Linked DNA regions of Homo sapiens: region 2 is linked to region 1. A link means that fine-mapping ties the variant in region 1 to the expression of a gene that starts in the linked region. Tissue or cell type: testis. Region 1 holds a variant in brackets; the other region holds the start of a gene. All regions are shown on one strand. Distances are between the middles of the regions.

What was found. PIP is the estimated chance that this variant, and not a neighbour inherited with it, causes the effect.
Region 2: WNT11 starts here. The variant in region 1 is fine-mapped to the expression of WNT11 in testis (GTEx, PIP above 0.99). The same link has a PIP of 0.9 or more in adrenal gland.

Annotation. Positions count from the first base shown.
Region 1 is chr11:76,273,401-76,281,656 of GRCh38, reverse strand. No RefSeq gene overlaps it. Among named protein-coding and RNA genes, the nearest start is that of TRP-TGG2-1, 42 kb to the right of the region's middle. The variant T/C (reference allele first, on the strand shown) is at 4,034.
Region 2 is chr11:76,202,844-76,210,843 of GRCh38, reverse strand. WNT11 (Wnt family member 11) reads left to right here and starts at 4,342. Exons shown (of 5, transcript NM_004626.3): 1 at 4,342-4,519. The coding sequence starts at 4,437. LOC112268079 (a long non-coding RNA gene) reads right to left here and starts at 1,017. Exons shown (of 2, transcript XR_002957259.1): 1 at 925-1,017; 2 at 1-579. RefSeq lists silencers at 168-337, 2,990-3,209, 4,190-4,429 and enhancers at 550-1,216, 1,549-1,598, 1,217-1,883, 3,218-3,885.

The DNA.
Region 1 (8,256 bases):
AGAGTCCCATGGCAGGCGGGCTCAAGGGCACCTGGCTTCCCCAGCACCCTCGCCCACCATGGCCCCTGCACTTTCCCGTCTGTGATTTCTGGCAGCAGGAAGGAGCTGGCCGGGTTAGTATTATTTTCCTGGTTTGCCTGACTGCTATGATGGTTCCTAAAATCACACAGTGGGGCTGCTACCATCCTGTTTGGGAGCCGGGGGGCTCCTTATCTGAGCAGACCACAGCTCCGCTCCCGCCTGGAGCCCAGCCAGGACAGCCACACAGGTGCCCTGAGGTCATGTAGCAAGAGCAGTGGTAGAAAGCTTAGGCAGGGGACCACCGAGGACACTCGCACACATTGTCTCGCTGGACACTTCAGCCAGTGGGTCAACTGGGCAGAAACGGAGGTTCTGAAAGGGTAAGGGGCTTGCCCAAGACCACTCCACAGGTCCCAAGTTTCCAGGCCCTTGTGCTGTTTCTTCAACCCCCACCCCAGACAGTGAGCAGGGAGGTTCCAATGCCTTGGCCCCATCGGGGGAGACCTGGCTGTTCCTGCTCCCTGCCTCCCCTTCTTCCACGACGTGGCCAGAACCTGGCTGGGAGCAGGAGGCCGGGGTCCTCGGCAGCCCCTGGCATGGCAAGCTGGGTGAGTTCCCCTCTGAGCTCTGGACTCGTGGCTGCTCTGAGGACCCCTGCCCAACAATGGCCGAATTCTCACTCCCCCCACCCAGGCCCTCATCTCTCCACAGGGCATGAGGCCACCAAGTCTCTCCCTACTGGGAATGGGAGACCTAAGGTAGTGGTCAGAGTCTCTCTCTGCCCACAGGACCAGTGGGCACCCCAGGAGTCTGTTCTAAGGAACCCCACTGTTCCCTGTTCTAAGGACAACAGAAGGCAGCAGGTGGTTCTGGGCCAGCCGAGTGGCCTAGGTGGCAAGCTGCAGGAAGGAATGGCCGCAGGACTAGCAGGGCCCTGCAGCCTGGCTGGTGGTCCCCGAAGTCGTCTGTCGAATGTTGGCTTCGCAACTCAGGCAGTCTCCTCAGCTCCCCAGCCTTAGTGTCCTTGCCTGGAAAGGGAGGAAGTGGTAGCACTTATTCCATGCAGTTTCGTGAGGATCCCGTGTTAGGGCCTATGAAGCACTTAGCAACTGTCGGACACCTAGCAGATGCTTGACAAGATGCAGCTGAGTATTATTCGGAATATTTTTTAACAAGTGGTGGGCAGGGCCAGCTTCACTAGGAGCAGCCCTGGAGCTGAGGGCTGGACCTGATTTAGAGGCAGGCGAGTCCCTCTCCACCGAGCGCCCACCCACAGTGTCAGCCCATCATCAACTCCGCCCTGAACATCTCAAGGGGGTGTTACTGCTATCTCCACCTGCAGGAGTGCCCTGTGAGGCTGCACACATTCGAGGGTAGATCTGGGTCTCTATGGGGTCCTGATGCTCATATGCCACACTCCACCTGGCCACTCATGTTTAACCCTGCCCTCTCCTTGCGAGGGGGTGTCTCTGAATATGTGGGCTACCCCAGGAGCTGCTGGTGCCCTGCCCTCACTCTGCTGTGGGGACCTGACCTGTCTTCTCGTGCCCAGCTCTTTCTGGCTCAGCGCAACTGCAGAGCTGTCACCTCAGCCTTTGATGACATCTTTACTTCTTGCGCCCTGTTGTTCAAGCATCCGATCTGGCCCCTGTCTTCTCCCTCAGCCTTTGAACTTGACCAGGGTTGGGGCTGGGTCACCCACCGTCTGGGCCTCCCCACAGGTGTGAAGCTTCAGGCAATTCCTTCCCCAGCCACTGCCCCCTGTTTCACCCCCTCACATGCAGACACCTGCTGAGTGGTATTCAATGACAATACGTTCCCTCGGTCAGCAAATATTTGCCGCCTGTGGTTCAGCCCACCTGCAGGCCACCCAGGATAGGAGCAGAGGGGAGAGTGGCCATGAGCCAACAGCGGCAGGCTGCAAAGGACACCATTATCATCTCTGGCTGCATCACCAGAAATGTGGGGGCCAGGACCCTACATTTCTCCAAAGCTGGACATGGAAGGAATGTTCTACTTTGGAGAACGGCCTGCTCTGGGCTCCATGGACAAACTGGACCTTGTCCAGAGGAGGCAAAGTTAGACAGATCCTCCAATGCTTCCTGACGTCTGGTTGTTGAGACTATTACATATGGAAGATAGAATTTGAGATGATTTTAGGTGATTCATGAAAAACTTACAACATCATATAGAATAGTGTCATAAACCCCGTGTCTGAATCATCTGACTTCAACAATCATGGTAAAACATCCAGTTGCCTCCACCTCCAGCGTGAAGTCTTCACTCATCTCAACATTTTGGTCACAGCATTGACTTCTCCTGGGACCCTTGAGCTGGTTGAAAGCAGGAGTGACGCTGGTCTATGTGGGTCCTCAGCCCACGACAGGGCCTAGTCCACTTTAGGTGGCATCAAGGTAGTTGGATTGAATCAACAAAAGAAGGTGGGAAGGACCCAGCGGCCCAGCATCTTCTGAGCACCCGCTCTGGTTAGGGAGCTCTCCCACCTGTCACCCCCTTGTGAAGGAGGGACTATAAGCCCCATTTTACAGTTGAGGAATTGGAGACAGAGAGAGGTTGAGTGTCTCACCCAAGTTACACAGCATTATGTGGAAGAGGCGGGTTGGGAATCTACCTCTGTCTGGTCCTAAATGGCTCTGTAATTTTTGTCAATCCACACCAGAAAGATTTTGCCATTTTTTTAACAAAAGGAAGTTGATTTGGGGAGCAGTTTGGGGTGCCCCAATCCTGTTCCTGTCCCTATTGCCTGAAGGGCCTGGCCTTAGTCAGCTGGGCGAGTGAGATGGGGGACATGGTCTTCCACACCCCCAAAAGGGCATCCCCTCCTCTGCCACCACTCCCAGTGTCCTTAGAGTGGAGAGGACACACTGTCCTCAGCCCTAGACCTGCTGGTCACTTGCCTAATCCCGCTGCCTCTCCATCCTCCATCAGTGCTCAAGGGGGCACAGGGCATCGGGTGGCTAACCTCTCAGGGACTTGGAGACCTAGTAGGCTGACCCACCCACTCTTCAGACAGAAAGACTGAGGCCTGGAGAGGGGAAGAGGCTTTTGAAGCAATTCTAGGGTAGTCTTTCTCATGCATACGCTGTGCCTTTGTTGAAAGGGATCCTACGTTTGTGTCCCGGCCCTTGCCTGACTTGCTGGTTATGAGGGTCAGTATTATCATAACAACCCTATAAGGTAAACATTGGTATTAGTGTAATCACACAGATGGGGCAGCTGGGACAGAGAGGTGAAGGTGACCTTGCCCACAGTCACACACAGGTGTCTGGGATTTGAACCCAGAAGCGTGGCTCCAGAGTGCCCATGCTTAGGTAATTGCTGGGCTTCCAAGGGGGCTGGGTAATGCTGCCCTTGGCCTGAGGTCCCCCGGTCTCTTGCAGTGCACCCCTCACCTAGTGCATCACCCACTCACTTGCCCTGCAAAGGAGGCTTGGATGGGCTATTTGCCCCCGCACTCCAGCAGGAAGCAGGGAAACAAGAGGGCCCTGGCGGAGCTGCCGTCTCCCCTGGCTCTGCTGAGAGCACCCCAACCTACCCAGGGCCAGGTGGGCCTCCCCAGTTCATCCTGCTCGCAAAGCCAACAGACCGTGGCGTCTGCAGACCGTGACCTCCTCCCGGCAGACAGCAGCTCTGGCAGCTCCATCGTCATTGCCAACTCCAATGCCTCAATGCACATGGCGGGGCCCAGCCACAGAGCCCAGCCCCTGCCTCCCTGAGCCCACCCATGCGAGCCAGAGAGGGGCTGCGGGTGGTGAAGGAGGCCTGGGATGGAGGGGCAGGCTGACAGGCAGGGTCAGCAGGGCTGTGGTGTGGCTGTGTGACCTTGGACAAGTGACTTGAGCTCTCTGAGCCTGCCTCGCTTCACCCATTCTTTTGTAGTGGCTCTTTCAGGGAGCCACAGTGTGGAAACAGGATTTGTAAGGGGCAAACCACTGTGCGGATGGGAGGGGCTCCTGCTATGCTCCTGTTCTCTCCCATGACCCATTTGTCC[T/C]GCCCTTTCCAAGTGACCCCTGTGGTCACGTCACATTGACGTGCGCTTCAAGGACCATTGCCCTGGCTCGAGGGCCAGCTCTGCATACACTCACGCCAGACCGTCCCAGGCAGGCGGGGGCCGCGGGGTCTCCCATCTAGCCCCTGCCTATGCAGAAGAGGCAAGAAGGCCTGGACAGGAAGCCGCCTGGGTGTGGGAGCAGCGAGCACAGGAGAGGGTGTGGGCTGCAGTGGAGGCAGCCAGGCCTCCTGTGGAGCTGTGAGGAAGGCACAGCTTTGGAGTCAAAGAGCCCTTCATTCAGGTTTTGGCCTGAAGACCTGGGGTGCACGGGGCCGTGCTGCCGTGCTGGTTGACCCTGCACCACTCTGGGGGCCACCTGGCCCGAGACTGTCAACAGGAATTTGTGTATTTTTTAAGACAACGTTGTGCTTGCAGGAAGGGGTGGCTTTGGTGGATGTGCGAAGGTGCCAGCTCCCCTTCTGTCATTTATCTCTTCCCGCCTCTCCTGCACTTGCTCAGGGACTGCTCTAGGGAAAGGACTGGGTCTGATGGTCTCTACCCGGAACCCAGGACAGGGCCTGCCAGGCATTTGCTGAGTGCTTGAGTGACCCCTTGTGTGTGCCCAGCACCTGAGGACCCTGTTCAGGGCCTGCACCCGAAGGAGCCCCTCAAGCCCCGGACAGATGCAGGGACATGAAATGCCCAGGTGGGCCAAGAAGGACATCCCCACAGGTCCAAGCCCACAGTGTGTGATGTCCCCCCTGCCTACCCAGAGACCCCCTGCCAGGGCTGTCTGCAGGCCTTCAGGGTATACCTGGCACACAGGACCAACTGGGGGGTTGGGGACTGCAGTCAAGCCGGGGTCTGACCTTTGTTCAGACTCACACATCTCCCCAGAGCCTCCCAGGCCTCCCAGTCACTCCCTTGGGTCTTGGGTTCAGGAAATTGGAAGAGATTTCAGGTATAGAAAGGGTCACTGTGATGCTGACATGTGACATGACAATGTGGTGAAAGGTAGCACCCGTGGGCTCTGAAGTCAGACAGAGCCAGTCCGAAGTTCAGCTTTGCCACTTGCCAGCTGTGTGATCTTGAAAAAGTTCCTCTCCGAGCCTCAGTTTCACAGCATTAAGAAAGAAAACTGCTCCCAATCCTTGCTGGGCTGTAATTACTTCCCTGTCACATTCACTTAGCAATTTCTGCCTCACTTGAGCTTCTCATCAGGCCTGCATTTTACCCCTGGGAAACTGAGGCTTGATGAGGCGGTAGTCCCGGCTTTGCCATGTGACCTTAGGCAAGGCACCTCCCTTCTCTAGGCCAATGAAGAGGTCAGAGGAGACGTTCCCCTGGGTCTCATCTGCCCTCTGGAGTCTGTGTTTAGGTTTTGTGGTCTGGCCTCTGGGATCTTGACTGTTCCCACTCAGTTGGGGGGTGTAAGCCTGGGCCTGTGTGTGGGTTGCGTGTGTTGGGGAGGAGGGAGGCAGTTGTTTTTGGTCATCAGCTGGCCAGGCCAGCCCCTGGGGGTGCATCCTCGGAGCCCTATCTCTACATGAACTTTCTCTCATCCCCAAATTGCACACAAGGCACTTTTTGGGATCGATTTACCTCCCCTGTGGCCCCCCTGGCCCATTTTACATTTGTCAGGAAGAAATCGGAGGAGCCATAGCTGCCCTCCCTCACCTCACCCACCCCGGGGACATTCCAGGATTAGACAGGAGTGGAGGTGACAGCACAGAGAAGAATAAATCTTGAAAGACAAGGTTCCACATTTTCTCCATTTAGTACAAAGCAATGCATTCCAAAACCCAGTTCAGCCAAGGGGAGCGTGGAGGCTGGAGGCAGGAGAGGAGGGCAGAAGTCTAGATTTTGATAAACAGAACCTGCTCCCCGTGAGTAGGGATGCTCAGCCTGGGCCCACCAACAAGGCAACTGTGTCCTGGATTCATTGCCCGCTGACTGGCCAGAGTCTGACATTCTGGCCGCCCTCCACTGGCTATTCTAGCCACCATCCATCAGGTCATGCAAGGCATGAGGCCAGGAGGGAGCAGGGAGGCCTGGGGCTTTGCAAGGTGTGAGCCTCTGTGGCTGGAGGGTTTCAGCAGAGATAAGAGGACCACTGGGCGAGGAAGTTATATGAGGACCCCAGCCCGGCTCCAAGTCAGACAGGCGAGGGTTTGCCTGTTGGCTCCCTCTTCCACTAACTGGTTGCCTTTAGCAGTTGTCTGTTACCTGAGCCTCTGTTTTCTCATCCGTAACCTAAGGATGATTACACCTTCTCCCAAGATTGTTAGGGGGACCAAAAGTGGCAGTGTCTGTTCCATTCCCAGCCGGAGGCATAACAGTGGGAACAAAAGGAGTATCGTGGTAGTGGGATTTGCTGTGTCGCTGTCTCACTATGGTCACTGTAACAAATTCCCACAAACTCAAGGACTTAACACAAATGTATTACCCTACAATTCCATAGGACAGAAGTCCAAAATGTACTTTATTGGGCTAGCATCAGAGTGTCAGAACTGCGCTCCTTTACAGAGGCTCTGGGGAGATCCTGTTCTCTTGCCTTTCCCAGCTTCTAGAGGCTGCCCGCACTCCTTGGCTAGTGGCCCCCTTCCCTCCTCAAAGTCAGCGATGGCTGATTGAGTCTTTCCTGCCTCCCATCACTCAGACACAGACTCTTCTGCTGCCTCCTCTTTCACTTTCAAGGACGCTGTGCTTACAGTGGCACACCAGGTAATCCAGCATTATCTCCTGATTTTAAGGTCAGCAGACTAGCACCCGATTTCCGTCTGTGATCTTAATTCCCCTTTGCCATTTAACATAACATAGGCACAGGCTCCAGGGATCAGGCTGTGGACATCTTTCGGGTGGGGAGCATATTCTGCCTACCACTCCATTCAAGTAACTCATTTCTCCACCCAGGACAGGAAGACTTTGCTGTCCCTGTTCATCAGGAACTGGTGAATGCTGTGGACTGGTAGCGCCGTGTGCTGCTTTCCTTTCTTCTCCCTTTTCAGTAGGAATTGTTATTGCAGTTACCCAATTCTCTCTGCCATTATGGAGTCATGGTCTGTTGGAGGGATAATCTTTCAGCCACAGATTGCAAGACCTCAAGAATACATCTAACTCTGAAGGAAAATAATATAAGTCACCCAGAGATTCTGAACTCAGTATTATGAGTCTCTGATTTGTCTTCTATTTGAGAGAGGGGAGGAAGTGGGAAGGTATTATTTTGTGTGCAAGTAAAGGCATGCATAAATGTCAGCCCTCAAAGGGGTGGACTGTGTGGGCAGTTATTATCTTGTCCTCAACATCCTTTCCCCTTTTATTCTGGTGGCAGGACTCTGCTTTTGCTCTAAGGTAATTATTCCTCTCATCCACTCTTCCCTACTCATTGGCTCCTATATTTCAGATAGTGTTGTCCCCACCCCCAACTCCAGAGCTCCAGAGCTGGCCGTGAGACATAGGCCCCGTCAGTCAGAGCTTCACATATTCCTGGCCACAAGGACTTGTTCACAGATGGACTCACGACCCGTTAGAAGCAATGGGTTACATATTTGAATGCTTGCTGGGTCTACTGACAAAGGAGGACTCTTAACAAAATTTTTTTTGGCTGGACCTGAACCTGGAAGTTAATTTTATAGTTATCTTTTCACCACTTGGAGCCTAAAAATGAAGCCAACATGGGAACCAGGAGAACCGAGAGATGGAGCGAGCAGGTCCTGGGGGCAGAATTTGAGCCCCTAGATAAAGCCATGCCTGAAACTCTCATGCCCTTGGACTTTGCAGTTAGATGACTTAATATTTTTCTTTTCCTTCTTTGTTTTTTTGACTAAGCCAATTTTTGTCACTTTATGTGGCAATGAGATTGTTGATTATAAATCATATGCTTTAGCACTCTGTCGTTTATTTTTTGTTTATTTTATTTTTTGAGACAGAGTCTTGCTCTGTCACCCAGGCTGGAGTGCAGTAGCACAATCTCAGCTCACTGAAACCTCCGCCTCCTGGGTTCAAGCAGTTCTCCTGCCTCAGACTCCCAAGTAGCTAGGATTATAGGTGGGTGCCACCATGCCCAGCTTCTTTTTTTTTTTTTTTTTTTTTTTGTATTTTTAGTAGAGATGGGGTTTCATCATGTTGGCCAGGCTGGTTTCAAACTCCTGACCTCAAGTGATCTGCCTGCCTCAGCCTCCCAAAGTGCTGCGATTACAGGCGTGAGCCACCATGCCCGGTGC
Region 2 (8,000 bases), 71 kb after region 1:
CACCCGGTGGGGTTGCGACGCGCTGACGTGGGCGGATCAAAGCGGCCGCCCGCCTTATAAAGCAGTTTGGGAGGCTCGCGCCGGAGATCGCGCCAGGCGAGGAGGAGAGCTCGGGCGAGCGGCGAGCACAGGCCACGGGAGCTGAGCGCAGCAGAGAGCAGCCGGAGTCCGCGCCTGACTCCGCGCGGGTCCTGAGCCGGCCGCAGCTTGCCAGGATCCCCGGCGTCCTTCTCGCGCCGCTTCACGAAGAGGGCGCCTTCGCCGCTCGCCCAGCCGGAGTGCGCACGGGCCCGCTGGAAACCGCACTCGCCGCTCCCTGGGCAGGCCGGGGCACCCGGGCACGCAGGGCGCGCCTGGCGAGCGCCCCGGGAGGTGAGCAGTGGTCGCGGGCAGCGGGCAGCCGCTCAGCGGGGACCCGCCAGGGCTGGGGGCGCCCGAGTCCGAGGGGGACGACGCTTCTCGCACCCGCCACGACCCCCTTGGGCACCCACTCCCGGGTAAGCAAACCAAGCGCTCCTCCATACCTTTCCCCCGCAGCACTCCGAAGAGTTCCCCTTTGCGGAGCGAAGCCTCGGGAGCCTGGGGACGCGGGGTTTAGGGGCACGCGGGACGGTGGTGGGTTGTGCAGTTCCTGCGGCCCTCCTCGAACTTTCCCGGCCCGGCCCCCCTCTTCTGCCCCCGCACCCCAGGCGACCCCCTCCTTCCCAGTCGTTCGGCGGATGAGGTCATGCCCGAGCCACCCCCGGGGGTGGGGGACTTGGATCCCGCGACAGAGGGTGTGTGTGGTGGGCGGGGGGAAAGGGTGGCAAAAGGCAAAGAAATGCGGCAGCGCCTAGTAAATTGGGGATGGGGGCAGAAGCCTGGCTTTGAGAACGGGTCCCAGGGGCGGCGGGGGGAGGGGGAGAACCGAGTTTGTTTACTGACCTGAGCTCCAGGCTGGGGGCTAGGGAGGAGGAAAGTCCTGTCCCCGGCCCCGAGGCACATCTGCAACCGCCCGGAACATCTGGCTGAGCTCGCGCACGAGCTCCACGCCTCCCACCCCCGGGGCTGAAGTGCCTCGGTGTCCCTCAAGGCCCTGGGCGTGCAGGGTCCGGCTCCAGGGGGTTAGCAGGAGGGATCTCGAGTGCTCCCACCCACCCTTCCCACTTCCAAAACAACCCGTCTCCCGGGTGACCCGGCGCCGCGTGCGCAGCCAAGCAGACGTCTCTCGAAAGCCTCACGGCTGGGGTCAAAGCCGGGTGGCAGGCCCGGCCTCGCCCCGCCCCGCAGGTAACCTTGAAGCCGTCGCTCGGCGTCCCTGGTTGGCGGGGTCAGCTCCGTGAGCTGCGTGGCGGGAGGCTTCGGGACCCGCCCGTGCCGACCTTGCGCGCCGCGCGGACAATCGGCCCCGGTGCACGGTGCCCGTGGGGCGTCGGGGTAGGGGGGACCCCGCAAGTCCTCGCCGGGCCGGCGTGGCCTGGTCCCAGCGGCCGGCTTTCCAGAGTCCTCCACAGACCGGGCCTATGACCATCTGTTGGCGGCGCTGGGCTGCGGCGCTGCGCTCGTGGTGTTCTCCCTGTGCACAGCCCCAGGCGGCCGCCTCCCGGGCCCGCTGCAGGCAGGGTAGCTCGGACCAACTTCGAGGAGGTGACCGCTCGCTCTCCAAAGGTGCTACGCCTGGCGCGGCCCACTACGCGCCCGGCCCCAAGCAAGGGGCCGGGCAGGTCAGGGCGGCCCACGGCAAGTGTCCTATAGAACGACCAGGACACAGGGGGCACTCCCTCGACACGTCGTCCCATCCCCAGACGGAGAAGCGGGGGCCCAGGAAGAGGACTTGACCCCAGCCCGCGACGCAGGAGGCAGCCGCGATTCCCCCCTCCTCGAGCCCCGGCTTAGCGCCCCCTGGCGGGCTGGGGGCTTCAGGAGGCGCGTGCACCCTGACCCGCGAGCTCAGGCGGAAGGTGACCCCGTGGCCTGCGCGGCTGTCCCGGGCGCTCGTACAAGGGACAGGAACAGTCCGTCAGGACCCAGAGGCTCGGGCCAGGCGCTGCCTCCCCGCGCGACGAGCTTGGGCGGCGGAGGGAGAGCCTTGGGACAGCCGGGGCTGCACCGAAAGAGCTGGGCGGGGCTGGAGGCCTGGGTCCCCGTCCGCTGTGCGACCTAGGGGGCTCCTCCTCTCCCTGGGAGACCAGGCTGGACACAGATCCCCCGCTGTGAGTCCGCGCGCCTCCGTCCTCTTGCAGCCCCCGCCCCCTCCCCACCCAGGAATGCCGGGTGCCTTCGGGGGGCGGCGCACTTTGGGAGAGGGGAAGACGGTGACTGGAGTTTTGATTCCCCCCTCCATATCCAGCGGATATTTTTCTCGTTCTGAGAAGTGCAAGAAACTTGCAGGACCAGGAAGACAAAGGATTTGGATACAGGCTGGGTGGGAGGACGGGACTGGGTTACACCGAGAACCCCTCTGAGACCCCCAGCCTTGACGGCATGTTTGTCGCAGGCGCCCCTGTGCTGGGCGCTAGCTGCGGGGCTCTGCGGAGGAAAAAAACTGTACGATCCAGGCTTCTCCTCGCCTTCCTGTGGGTTTTGCCGACAGGCTCCAGAAAACAGTGGGGCTTCCCATCTCTGCGTGCTGACTACCCACGCGCAGGAACGCGCCACGCAGGTGGCGTCGCGGTGCAAATAGCAGAGGGGCGCTGAGCCCCGCAGGCTGCAGGGAGACGGGGTCCTCGGGGGACGCACGGCGAAGCCCCATTCCTCGTTCTTATGGAAGGGGACACCGAGGCTGGGGTGGCTGAGGGCTTGCCCAAGCTCACAGAGCCAGATAAGAACGTCCCTTTTCTGCTCCAGCGCCCCCACTACCGTGGGCGCCTCCTTTTCCAACTCCCCAAACCCTTAGAAAGGAATCCCTTTGTCTCTGCTCCTCCCGAGGGGAGAGGGGCTGGGGCTGTGTCTGACTCCGGGCGAACGCCAGGTGTTGGTAAATTTGGGAGAAGCTGGGAAGGGAGTTAATGAGGTGAGAATGAAGTGAAGGAGAAAAAAAGCGGAGATAGCTGCTCCGCGGGCTGCGGGCGGGCGGGGCAGCCTCTCCTCCGCGGCCCGAGGGCGCCGCCTGGAGGCCAGAGGCAACACCGCGCCAGCCCCGCGAGCTTCCCCGCTTCGCTAAGGCGGGGCTGCCCAGTCCCAGCCCGCATGCTTCCACTCCCACCCTCCAAAGTGGAGCGGCTAAAGACGGACTTGGAGACTCGGAATCCTCACTGTACAAAGAGCCCTACCATCCCGTTTCCCATCCTCCCCTTCCCACACCGAGAAAGCAGGGCCCCGAGCAAGCCCCATTTCCTGATTTCGCCGGACACCCGGCTTGCCGCTCCCTAGCTGAACCCCACCTCTGTGCCTCAGTTTCCTCATCTGTGAGATGAGGCAGCGATAGTGCCTATCTCACGGGGTGCTGGGAGGAGCAGATGCGATCGTGTTAGGGAACTTTTTTTGTTTGTCTGTTTGTTTGAGACGGAGTTTCGCTCTTGTCGCCCAGGCTAGAGTGCAGTGGCGCAATCTCCGCTCGCTGCAACCTCCGCCTCCCGGGTTCAAGCGGTTCTCCTGCCTCAGCCTCCCGAGTAGCTGGGATTACAGGCGCCCGCCACCACGCCCGGCTAATTTTTTGTATTCGTAGTAGAGACGGGGTTTTGCCATGTTGGGCAGGCTGGTCTCGAGCTCCTGACCTCAGGTGACCCGCCCGCCTCGACCTCCCAAAGTGCTGGGATTACAGGCGTGAGCCACCCTGCCCGGCCAGGGAACGTTCTTTATAAAAGCGGAATTGTGCCCGAATTGCCCCAGCTTACTGAGGAGGTAAACTGAAACACGTTTGGGAAGGAGAATTGCCGAGGCCCTATTAACTAATGCTCAATATTGCAGGGATAAGCCCCAGCTCCGGGTCCTCGACTCTGCTGCCTCGCCTGGACTCCTGATTCCTCATTCCTCTCCTTTCCGTCCCAGGTTGCGTCTGTCCGGGTTTCCCCCTCTGTCTCCGTGGCTCTCAGCCTTGTCCTCTGAGCGTCCTTCTCCCTCTCGCTGTGTCTGCCCGGTCTCTCCTGGGTCTCCGGTTCTGCCGCCTCCTGTCCCTCCTTCCGGCTGCCCCGGCCAGAGGGGCTCGAAGGCGCGTTGGGGCCCGGGGCCACGCTGGGAGACACGCCTTCGGCCGCGCCTAATTCGAGCCAGGCGCGGGACGCGTCCCCCGGCCGGGCGGAGCGGGAGGGGACGCCCGCCGCGCTCGGCCTCCCCGGGCCCCGACCCCTCCTTTGTAATTTGAATAAAACGCCTCCCCCGCCCGCGCGCCGCCTTAACCCGCCGCCTCCGCTCTCCCCGGCTGCAGGCGGCGTGCAGGACCAGCGGCGGCCGTGCAGGCGGAGGACTTCGGCGCGGCTCCTCCTGGGTGTGACCCCGGGCGCGCCCGCCGCGCGACGATGAGGGCGCGGCCGCAGGTCTGCGAGGCGCTGCTCTTCGCCCTGGCGCTCCAGACCGGCGTGTGCTATGGCATCAAGTGGCTGTGAGTAGGGACCCCGCGTCCACGCGCACAGGCCAGGGACTGGGGCGGCGGAGGGCGTTTTGGGGTCCCCTGGATGGGGCGAGCGCACCAAGACCCGGGAGCCTAAGCTGGCTTGGCGGTCGTGGGCAAGTCATCCCTCAGCCTCTGTTTCCTCCTCTGTAAAATGTCCCTGCCTCCCGCAGGCTTGCGAAAAGGGAGTGAGACGGGCGTGGACCACAATGGAAGCGCCTGGTCCTGTGCAGCTGACGGTGGCGCAAGGGCCACGGAGTTTCTGGCCACCTCCGCAGGGGCAGATGGAAAAAGACATTCTGTTCAGGGGGCGCAATCCAGAGCGGCCAGCCCAGGAGCGGTCCTTGTCCGTCAGTCTCCTTGACCCTAGCGGGAGTTCCGCTGAGACACTCCTGACCCCTCCACCTGGGCGACCTTGGGAAAGTGTCACTCTACTTCTTGGGGCCTCCTTGTCCTCCTCTGTCACGGGAGGGTGAGACTCCCCACCTCCCTCAAATCAGATGAGAAGAGGCTCCTGAAAGGACCTCAGAAGCTGTCAGATGCCACTGTGCACATGTGCAGGGCATTCCTTTAGATAGAAATTATTCACGCAGGGGTAGGAGGGAGAGAGAGGCTTGGTGCCGAGCTGAAGGGAGTGCCTGCTCAGGGGGCTGGGGGTGGTGAAGAGAGGAGTAAACACCAGCCCCTTCCCGGAGGAGCTGCGCTCTAAGTTGAGAGAGATAAGCCCAGGCTGTAAATAACTCCACAAGTGTCCAAGTGCCCGAGGAGAAACCAGAGCGGGAATCTGGAGGCCTAGAGGAAGGAAGCCCACCTGGTGGGGACACAGATGTGAGACACCGGGAAGCTTTTCCGAGGCTGTGCCTCTGGTGACTGAAGCGCTGCTGGGAGTTGGCTGGTTCGGGCAATGGAGAGGACGCTGTGGGCAGAGGGGCTCCCTGAGAGGGAAAGTCCAGGACAGGACAAGGGTCTGGAATCTGGGGCCAGGGCAGGGAGCCTGCAGATAAGACAGCAGGGGGCAGGTTGTGGGGGCTGGGGAGGGCGCTGCAAAGGGTTTGTGAATTAGTTGGAAGACAGGGTGATAGTGGCTGCGCCGCCAGCAAACAGTCTGGAGGTCACTGGCCCTGCCCCTTCTCAGGCCAAGTTATTGATTAATTGACGATTCGAGGAGGGAACCCCGTCTTCCTGCCTTTCTTGTTTACAAGAAGCCTGGTCTCAGCAATCTCCCAGCCCTGGGCACTAGCTTTTCCCAGCTGTCCCTGAGGAGTTCTGTGAGAAACCAGCCACCTTCCTTTTGCAATGGGGTACCCAGCACTGTTCCAGCTGGCAGGGACCTCCGATCAGCGAGTCCAAGCTCTCTCATCCACCGCCACCATTTTACAGATAAGGATACTAAGGTCCAGGGAAGGAGAGGATTGGCTGAAGGAGCGTCAGAGGCCTTGCAGTGGGCTTGGGTGTCATTTGCCGCCCATAAGAGTCCTGTGGGGTCACTGCCATCATCCCTGCTCCACAGTGGGAACACCGAGACCCTGCAAAGGGCATGATGCACGCAAGCCCCCACGCTGGCCTGTGGTGGGATGGACGGCTGGCTAAACCTGACGTCCATGTCCTCTGTCCCCACTGCAAAGTCAGGCTGCCACAGAAATGGGTACAACTCATTGTGTGCCTTAAATAAGCCCCCAGGCTCTTGGGGGAGATGGACATATAGAAATACAAAGTGGACTATGGTCTGTGTCCTAGCAGAGGGAGCATGGCAGCCCAGAGGAGGAGTGATCAGTTCTATCTAAGGGAGATGCATAGGCCAGGATTGGAAGGACAGGGAGGATTTGGATGGTCAGAGACGGAGTGCAAAGCAGGCGTCCTAGGCGGGAGGCACAGCACGAGCAGAAGCCTGGAGGCCGAACAGCGCATGCGGGGAGACCTGGAGAAACCAGGCACCACAAGAGCCTACTCCTAAGTGCCCCAGACGCTGCTCCGAGAGCTTGGGTCATGTAAGTTAGATCATACTGCACTCCTATGAGAAACTGATAGTCTAGCAATAGGGGATTAAAGTCTTGCTAGAGTTTAAGATAGAGGGGGAGGTGGGAAAAGGGGTGGAGTTTAAGAATAACAACGATCTGTGTATGCATGTGTATATATAGATACACGTGTGTAGGCCACGTGCATATATCTATGTATATGTACATATATGTCTACACACACATGGCCTCACTTTGTGCTAGGTGCCGTTCTAAGTGCCTTATGTATATTGTTCCATTTAAATATCCCAACCACCCTGTGAGGTGGGTGCTGCTATTACCCCCGTTGCACAGAAGAGGAAACAGAGACTGGGGCACACAGAGATGGGGGACTCTACCTAGCAGGGTGTCACAGCTCAGAGGTAGTAGAGGCAGGATTTGAGTTAAGCTGCCTAGCTCTGTGGACTGTTGGGCACAGGGAGCCCCAGCACAGCTGGGAGCAGGGAAGTGTTCAGTGAGGCTGGAAAGCCGGGGACTCACCCAGGAGCCTCCGCTGGCCTGGGCTTTGGAGAGTGAGCTGGAGATGAAAGGGGCACTTGGCACAGGAACTGAAAGCCAACATGGCCCAGTGGCCTGGAATGCTCACCTGGTGGGTGCCTGGGACGCAGGCTGAGCTGGTGGGATGGGGGCTGGGGAGAGGGGATCAGAACCTGGCTGCCCATAGAGGCACCTGCCCAGAAATAACCTGGGGATCCTTCCCTACCTTACCTCCACCCAGGCCAGGCACCAGAAGACTCCCAGCCCCTCAAGTATTCGGGGTCCCAGGTCTGGGCTGTCCACCCCCTTCTTGGCTTTCCTGGGTAGGGGGAGGGTTTGAGGGGAGTCCCACTCTCCTGTGAACCACGGAAGCGGTGGGGTGAGAGGAAAGGCCCAGGCCGGTTGGGAACATCCATAAAGGCCGCCCCCTTCCCTGGGCAGTCCCACACCTGCCACTCCCACGGAGGTGGGGCCAGGAGGCTCTAGAGGGCCATGGCGCTGCAGAGTAGGGTGGAAGGAGCGCCAGACTGGGACTGCAAGGCCCAGCCTGAGTTCTGCAGGTCAATCGCTTTAGCTTCTCTGAGCCTCAGTTTCCTCAGCTCTAAGATAGAGGTAGAAGGAGCCCTACCTCAGGATGCAGGAGGCCTGGGGTCTAGCTTGTCTCTGCCTCTGATTGGCTGCGTACAGATCTGGGCAAGCCCTGCCCTTTCCGGGCCTCAGTTTCCCCACTTGCACAGTGGGAGTTCATGATGCTGTGGCAGCTGCCGTTTGGTTTCTTGGTTGAGAAGCATCAGACCAAGGCCTGTTAGGGCTTTACCTTTGCAAGATGGGCTGCACAGGTGGGTCAGCATGTGTGAGGCCAAGGGGACAGGCTTCCATCTCTGAGGTCTGGGCAGTCAGGTGTGAAGGGGACCCAGTGTCATTTCCAGGCAGGACTGGATCTGCAGGCTCAAGGCCCTTCATCAGCCTCCATTTCTCTA